Linked DNA regions of Homo sapiens. The protein of the gene in region 1 interacts with the protein of each later gene in a pairwise test. Each region holds a gene or a part of one and is shown on either strand. Other genes may lie near its edges. The genes, in order: TBX20 and ZSCAN1.

What was found.
Region 2: the proteins of TBX20 (region 1) and ZSCAN1 interact in a two-hybrid assay, tested with the Homo sapiens proteins (one large-scale study listed by BioGRID and IntAct).

What each region holds. Positions count from the first base shown.
Region 1 is NC_000007.14:35,244,031-35,247,850, forward strand, and holds part of TBX20 (T-box transcription factor TBX20), read right to left. Parts: intron 3,135-3,820; exon of another isoform or gene 1,771-3,134; intron 1,028-1,770; coding exon 919-1,027; intron 1-918. UniProt on the Homo sapiens protein: Acts as a transcriptional activator and repressor required for cardiac development and may have key roles in the maintenance of functional and structural phenotypes in adult heart.
Region 2 is NC_000019.10:58,040,508-58,044,327, forward strand, and holds part of ZSCAN1 (zinc finger and SCAN domain-containing protein 1), read left to right. Parts: coding exon 1-37; intron 38-3,820. UniProt on the Homo sapiens protein: May be involved in transcriptional regulation.

The DNA.
Region 1 (3,820 bases):
TGATCCTTACACATTGTATATATGTATCCAAATATCACATGTACCCCATAAATATGTACAATTATTATGTATCAATTAAAAATTATTAAAAGAAGAAAAAAATTATGGAAGTCCATCTAAAGTTTTCTTAGCATAAAATCTAAGACAGAATTTTTATGTGTATCTTTATTTAACAGCATGAAGTAACATCCCAGCAATGCCTTAAAAAGGCATTTTATCAAATATGTAAGGACCTGCATCATTGACTATTTGTTCTATTAAACTACTGATAAGAACACAGAGTTAATTTTTCTTTTTTCCACATTTTCATAAACTTTATACTGACACAAAATCAAATTGTTTTGTTTTTAATTACAGGGCTTCTTTATGCTTTAATATTCATGAAACTCTCCAAAAAAAAATGGTTACATAATGAGTAAACAGCACTTTCCCAAACTGATTTGGACATAAAATCCTTTTGTTATTTCATCTCACATACATATGTTCTATAGACTACACTTTGGGAAACCCCCATCAGAGGTCCTAGCCCTATTCTCTCTAAGTTTTATTATCTGCTATGCTGCTGACAGAAATTAGATGCTTAACCCAACAACAGGCTGTAGCAGCCTCCAAAAATGTATATTCCCTTAGTTTAGTTGGCTCGGGTGGTACAGCAATTTCAGAAGCCTTAGGAATTCCATGGAACAGAAGATCCCTGACCTTCTTGCATAGAAATGGCACACAGCATTCCCGTAAATGACCTATTACAAAATCAGTCAAGGTCCCCTGAAGAACACATAAATGTTCCCATAAAATGACTCAGAGATAGAAGGTGGGAAGGGGATAGGGAAGGCAGGAAGGGACTCAGAGAGAGACAGTTTTGTGCGACCTGTCCATTCTACCTCAGGGAACCTGCACAGTCCAAGGCATGGTACTTACATGGCCATGTTGATCCAGTTCATTGTTGGTGAGTTTCACCTTTTCAAAAGACACCATCTGTTTGAGTAGTTGCTCACCGGTAAAAGGAGAATCTGGATGCACATAGAGCCTAAGAAAATTAGGAGAAAACTTTATTGAGACTTCTTTAAAAAGTCTGTCTCTGTAGGTTATAAAATGTTCTAATTCTAAGGGAACACATAAACCATATATAAGTGGGAAATTTTATTGCCCTATATACCTCAAATTTATTACTATTGCAATGTCAAAACAACTGAAAAATGTCTAATTATTTCTTCATGTACCAATTATCTAAATGAGATAATACTTAACAAATTTTCTATTAAAAGCTGAGCAAGGCATTGTTTAAAGGGGTGTGTGTGTGTGTGTGTGTGTGTGTGTGTTTTCATCTATCTAGTCAACTACTGGTCTGCTTCGATCAAACGCAAAATCTTCTTGTTGAAGGTGCTTTCAAAAGAAAAACTAGCTTACACTAATCGCATGAGTTCCTATTATAAACATCTCTTAAATAACAGTGAAAACATAAATAATTTAAAAGAGAAAATAATTTTAGAGAATCCATTTATTTAAACTTAAAGTTTTAAAGTTTGTGTTCTTTGTAAATATAAGATGGAGCAATTTTAATATAGGGACATGGAGAACTCCCAGTAGTCCACCGATCAGCTAGGATTCTGTTCTTCCTGTTACATTAAACACTACTGCTTTCATCATTATCTGTTTATGTGCTCACTAAATGAGAGTTAAAACAAGCTAGACACACTTCACATTATTCAATTTATTTATCTGTAAACAGTGTAAGCCAAAAAAAAGCTCTCACATCTTTTACGCACTCACAGTTAAATGCAGGTCACTTTTTCTACCTGTGACAACGCCTTAAATGCAGCTCTTTGTAAGTCCCCATCCTGGTATCTTCTTGACTTAAGTCTTTCTGAAGTCAGAGAGAGACTACAGAACTAATGAAGGGGAAGCAAAATCCTTGATTTAATAGGACAAATTCCTTTATCCACGTAAAAGGTTATTTACACCTAAATTTTATATAGGATCCTTATAACTACAATTAAACATAAATATTTTTACTAGGGCAAAAGCAAGGGATAAGAAGTCATAAAATTTTTCTTGCATTATTCATGTAAAGAACAAGAAATCTGTTCCATGGTTTGTCACACAGAGGACTACGAATAGAAGAATTCTGTACAAATGCTGAAACTTACAAAGCCCACCAGGAGCAATGCACAAAAAAGGTTGACAGCACCAAAGACTCTTACCAGACCTACAGAGGAACTGTAAAGGCTTCAGGCATTTGTCTGCCTGTTAATTCCACTGTTTTTAGGAGGATTGCTCACAGTTGCCTTTCAATTATTCTTTGATAACACAACCACTTTTCAAGTACCATCCTTCCAAGACTGTAGCTTTATAGGTGCAATTGTTTTACTGATCAGAACCACATTCCTCCCTCTAAAAAAGTCCAAAATTATTTAAAGTCCTAAAGTTGATGAAATGTTCCCTCTCTAAGGATCACATTCACCACATGTAATGGCTATTAATAAAATATTAATGTAATTAAATATTATGTACTTTAAAGAAAAGGAGATGTCCTATATGAAAAGGTAACATTATTTTAGATCATAAGTAATATCTTGCTTATTATTACAATCAAGTGATACTGTCAAGCATTATTTCTTCCGATTAGGAATGACTGACCAATGAACTTCAGCCTGAACTAAAATGCTTCAAAGTCCTAAAACCATGGGAAATTTTTGCCATCAGTATAAAAATTATCATCTCCCAAGTTCTTCGTTTTTCTCTTATGGAGATAGATAAGTAGCAAACTATTTATTTTAATAATAATAAAGAATAGTTGCTAAATTATCTATTTTTTATCCCATAATAAGCTAAACATTTTTATTTAATATCAATCTAAAAAAGCTGAACTAGGATTAATGAAAAAATATACAGGAAGCCCCTCCTCTCAAGTCCCCCAGAGACTTAAAATTCCAGCAATAGCTTAAACATGCTTCAGTTAAGATAGTGTATTGGTACACACTTTTTTTCTCCAACCAGAACAGATTAGTAACATAAACAAGGCATGTCATATTTCCAAAGTCCTGCTGGCCTGCATCAGCTCCCCATACCTTCAGATAGGAAGAAAATGTATGTTTAATAAGAGTGATTAACTTCTTAGAGGAAAGACTGGAGGGCAAAAAAAAAAAAAAAAAAAAAGAGGGTTTGCTTGTAGAAAATGGTTAGGAATCTGCCAAAATACTCTCTCAGGTTTAAAACGGTATTGAAAAGTTTGGAAGGTAGCTAAAGAATAATAGTAAACTATTTAACAGTAAATAGAAGAGAACACTAATTTTATTAATTTTAATATCTATTATAAACTGGTGAATCTTGCTCAACTAAAAAAAAACTAATAGCAATTGTTTTTTAGATTTTCTTAGTCTTGACTGTTATTTAATATACTGATTTGAAAGGGCTGGGAAGACGCCCTTTCTGGTCTCTTCCGAGAATGGAAAACTCTGAGAGATTGCTTTTAATCTCTTTTCTAGTGCACTTAGCATACGATAAACTCAATAATATAATAAACTACTAATTAAGCTGAATATTCTATCTGAACCATATGTGTAATTGTCTGTTGATTCTCTGCCTTGACTATGACTCCAGACTAGACACAAAGTACCAGCCGTAACTTAACAGTTCCCAAATCTGTACATTTAAATAAGTTCTTAGCTCTGATACAAACTTTCAATCAATCACAAAAAATTAGTCATTAAACAACAAAAATTAGTCATTAAACATAAACAACAAAAATTAGTCATTAAAGAAAAGCTATGAGGCTGGGTTTTAAAATCCCAAACATAAAGTCAGCTAATATGTTTTGTTT
Region 2 (3,820 bases), on another chromosome or scaffold:
TGGGAAGAGTCCAAGGTCCCAGAAAGAACCATCGCAGGTGAGCCCGGGGCCCCCAGCTCCGTGCTCCTGCACCCCAGGGCATGCGTGCCGCTTCTGGGACGGCCTCAAGGATGCCCCATCCAAGGACTGTGTGAGGTTGTCCCCAGCGCTCCCAGGAAGCCCGGCCTCCAAACTCCCCGCCTGCCCCACAGATTCCCCAAGCTTCCTGGGGCTCAGTGCTGGGCGAGGGCAGTCAGTGCAGCTGTGTGTTTGCTGTGTGCCTCTGGGCCTCACCCCAGCCCCTCCTGTCCTTTCCCAGCCTCGCAGTTAAGACCCATCCTCCTGTGTCACCCGCACCAGATGCTGCGTGTGTTGAGAAAGTCCTGCTGCCCCGATCATCTTCCCTCAGTGAACCCAGGATTCTGGGCGGGCCCAGAAGGAAATGCTGAGGGCTCCCCTGCAGCTAGACCTGCTGTTGCGCAGGCCTCAAGGCGACGGGAGGGGCCCGGCTCGGTTGGGAGCCAAGCGGATCTCTGTGTGGCTGGAGAGATTAAAATCAGGGGTGGGGACACGCAGACACATGAGAGAAATCCAGGGGTAATGGGTAAATCACAAAAGAACAAAAGTAAGAACTGCTAAGTGAGTAGCATGTGTTCGTATGATCAGGGCTACTGAGTTTGACCACTTTCTGCCTCTGGATCTTGGTATTGGAGCCGCCAAGGGAAACACAGCACGGTCGAACAATGAATGGAGCAAGGTTTTGCTCACAGACCAGAGACCGGGCCAGAGCACCATCTGCCCATGTGGCTGTCAGGCCGGGGCCAGCAGGTCCCTCCTAGAGGGGTCCTGACCTAACAGTGGGGCTGTCTAGGTGCCACGTGAAGCACACGCCTGAGCAGAACAAAGGGGCACACATTGGGAAACAGAGACCTCCACACGAGGCACTACACCCAGCACAAACTGGGGGGACCCCTTATCTCTTGGTAAGGAGATGTTCTAGGCCCAGGACCCACTCTCAGGCAGCCAAGTAACAGGCTGAAAGACTGCACATGTGTGTCTCCCACTGGCTTAGTCCGTTCTGGGTGCTGTAACAAAATACGGCTGGGTGTGGTGGCTCATCCCGGTAATCCCAGCACTTTGAGTGAGGCCTCACGGGAGGCTGAGGTGGGAGGACCACTTGGTCCCAGGAGTTCAAGAGCAGCCTGGGCAACATGGCAAGACCCCATGTCTTAAAAAAAAATGAGCCAGGTGTAGGGGTGTGCACCTGTAGTCTTAGCAACTCTGGAGGCTGAGGTAGGAGGATCACTTGAGCCCAGGAGTTCAAGGCTGTAGTAAGCTATGATCATGTTTCTACACTCCAGCCTGGATGACAGAGTGAGACCCTAACTCAAAAAACATCAACAGCCGGGCACAGTGGCTCACGCATGTAATCCCAGCACTTTGGGAGGCTGAGGCAGGCGGATCACAAGTTCAGGAGTTCAAGGAAGAAGGAAGTAACTTGTGGAATGCTGAGAAAGGTAAAAACACCTTCAAATAAGGAAGAGGAACAGGCTATGACCTAATGCTTGCTTGGACCAGTATAGGCACACCAGGGCAAATATTTAGGCTAAATTGTGGGAGCTAAGAACATAAAGTACATTGATTTTTTTTATTATGGCTAGCAGATATATAAGAATGTTAGCACAGGTCTTTGAATAAATTTTGCTTCTAAGAGAAGTTACTATTTATTCCTAATTAGATGGGGAGGAAAGTCTTTGAAGAGGAACTTCTACTTTACTTTTTTTTTTTTTTAATGGAGTCTTGCTCTGTAGCCCAGGCTGGAGTGCAGTGGCGCGATCTCGGCTCACTGCAAGCTCTGCCTCCCGGGTTCACGCCATTCTCCTGCCTCAGCCTCCGGAGTAGCTGGGACTACAGGCGCCCGCCACCTCCCCGGCTAATTTTTTTTGTATTTTTAGTAGAGACGGGGTTTCACCGTGTTCACCAGGATGGTCTCGATCTCCTGACCTCGTGATCCACCCGCCTCGGCCTCCTGAAGTGCGTGAGCCATCGCGCCCGGCCCTAAAATAGATTTAAAGATCATCATGAGAGCCCCTCTCCTGCACCAAAACAAAGTTTCGTGGGCCGTGGTTTCTGTTTCTGCATCTAACGGAGGCATCTAACCTGGGTAGACCACAGTTGTTGGCCACGGGCTTCCTCAGCCGCTGCCGGCAGATGTGCTTATCTGACTCCCTCTCCCATCCCAGACGCCACGTGGAAACCACAGCCGCGCTCACAGGCCATCCCCTCACCACACGGCAACTCCAAGGACTCTCTTTTTGCGGGGGTCGTAGGTGGGGAAGGCTGCTGAGGTCCTCCCACCCCTCTCCCACCAGGGCCGCTGTGGCTGAGAGGATCCTCGTTGGCGCTGGTTTAGGCTGTGGGGCTCAGCCACAGCAGGGTGCCCCAACGTCCCTGAGCGAGCTGCACTTGTGGAGGGAGAGGCCTTAGGCCTGAGGCCTGGCGCCCGCGTGGAGAGACGGCAGCTCCGGGATCGGGGCGCTGGTGAGCGCGGCCCCAGGCATTGCCGCTGCCAGGGTGCTAACACTGCCTGAGGCACCTCTGCTTTTGAAGTCGCCGGGGATTAGCGGGAGCGTAGGTGAGGGACAGGTGGAGCTGCTCTGCGCGGGGCAGCCCGGCTCGCCAGGAGGCGCTGTGGAGTGGGCACGACTGGCGATCGCTGAGCGCATACAACCGCCTACCATCGGAAGCCTTTTGAGAAATGCTTCCTTAGGCGGTTTCGTCACCGTGCATACATCGCAGAGGGCACTCACACACCTACACGCACAGCCCATGGCTCCTAGGCTACAGACCTGCACAGCACGGGGCTGCACTGAATACTGTGGGCAACGGTAACACAATGTTGTTTGTGGATTTAAACATAGAAAAGGTACAGTAAAAATACAAAATAGAAGATAAAAAACAGTACACTTGTATAAAGCACTTGCCAGGAAGGGAGCTTGTGAGACTGGAAGTTGCTCTGGGTGAGTCTGAGTGGTGAGTGAATGTGAAGGCCTGGGAGGTTATTGTGCTGTGGACTTCATAAACATGGTGCACTTAGGCTACTAAATTGGCAACTATATTTCCTTCTTCAATATAATTTATCTTACTGTAAGTTTTTGCTTTACATTTTTTTTTTCTTTCTTAGACTGACTCTCACTCTGTCACCCAGGCTGGAGTGCAGTGGCACGATCATGGCTCACCGCAACCTCAACCTTCTGGGCTCATGCGATCTTCCTACCTGAGTCTTCTGAGTAGCTGGGAACACAGGCACACATTACCGCACCGGCTAATTTTTATATGTTTTAAAATTTTTTTAGTTTTTGTGTAGATGGGGTTTCACTATGTTGCCCAGGCTGGTCTCAAACTCCTAGGCTCAAGCGATCCTCCCTCCTCAGCCACCCAAAGTGCTGGAATTACAGGCGTGAGCCACTGTGCCTGGCGTAAAAAACTTTCTGACTCTTGGGGCCGGGCGCGGTGGCTCACGCCTGTAATCCCAGCACTTTGGGAGGCCGCGGCGGGCGGATCACTAGAGGTCAGGCCTTCGAGACCAGCGTGGCCAACATGGTGGAACCTCGTCTCTACTAAAAATACAAAAAAATAGCTGGGCGTGGTGGTGTGCACCTGTAAGTCCAGCTACTCCGGAAGCTGAGGCAGGAGAATCGCTTGGATCCAGGAGGCGGAGGCTGCAGTGAGCCGAGATCACGCCATTGCACTCCAGCCCGAGCAACAGGAGCGAAACTCCGTCTCAAAACAAAACAAAACAAAAAACAACCTGTGTCATTTTAAAATAAATAAATGATAC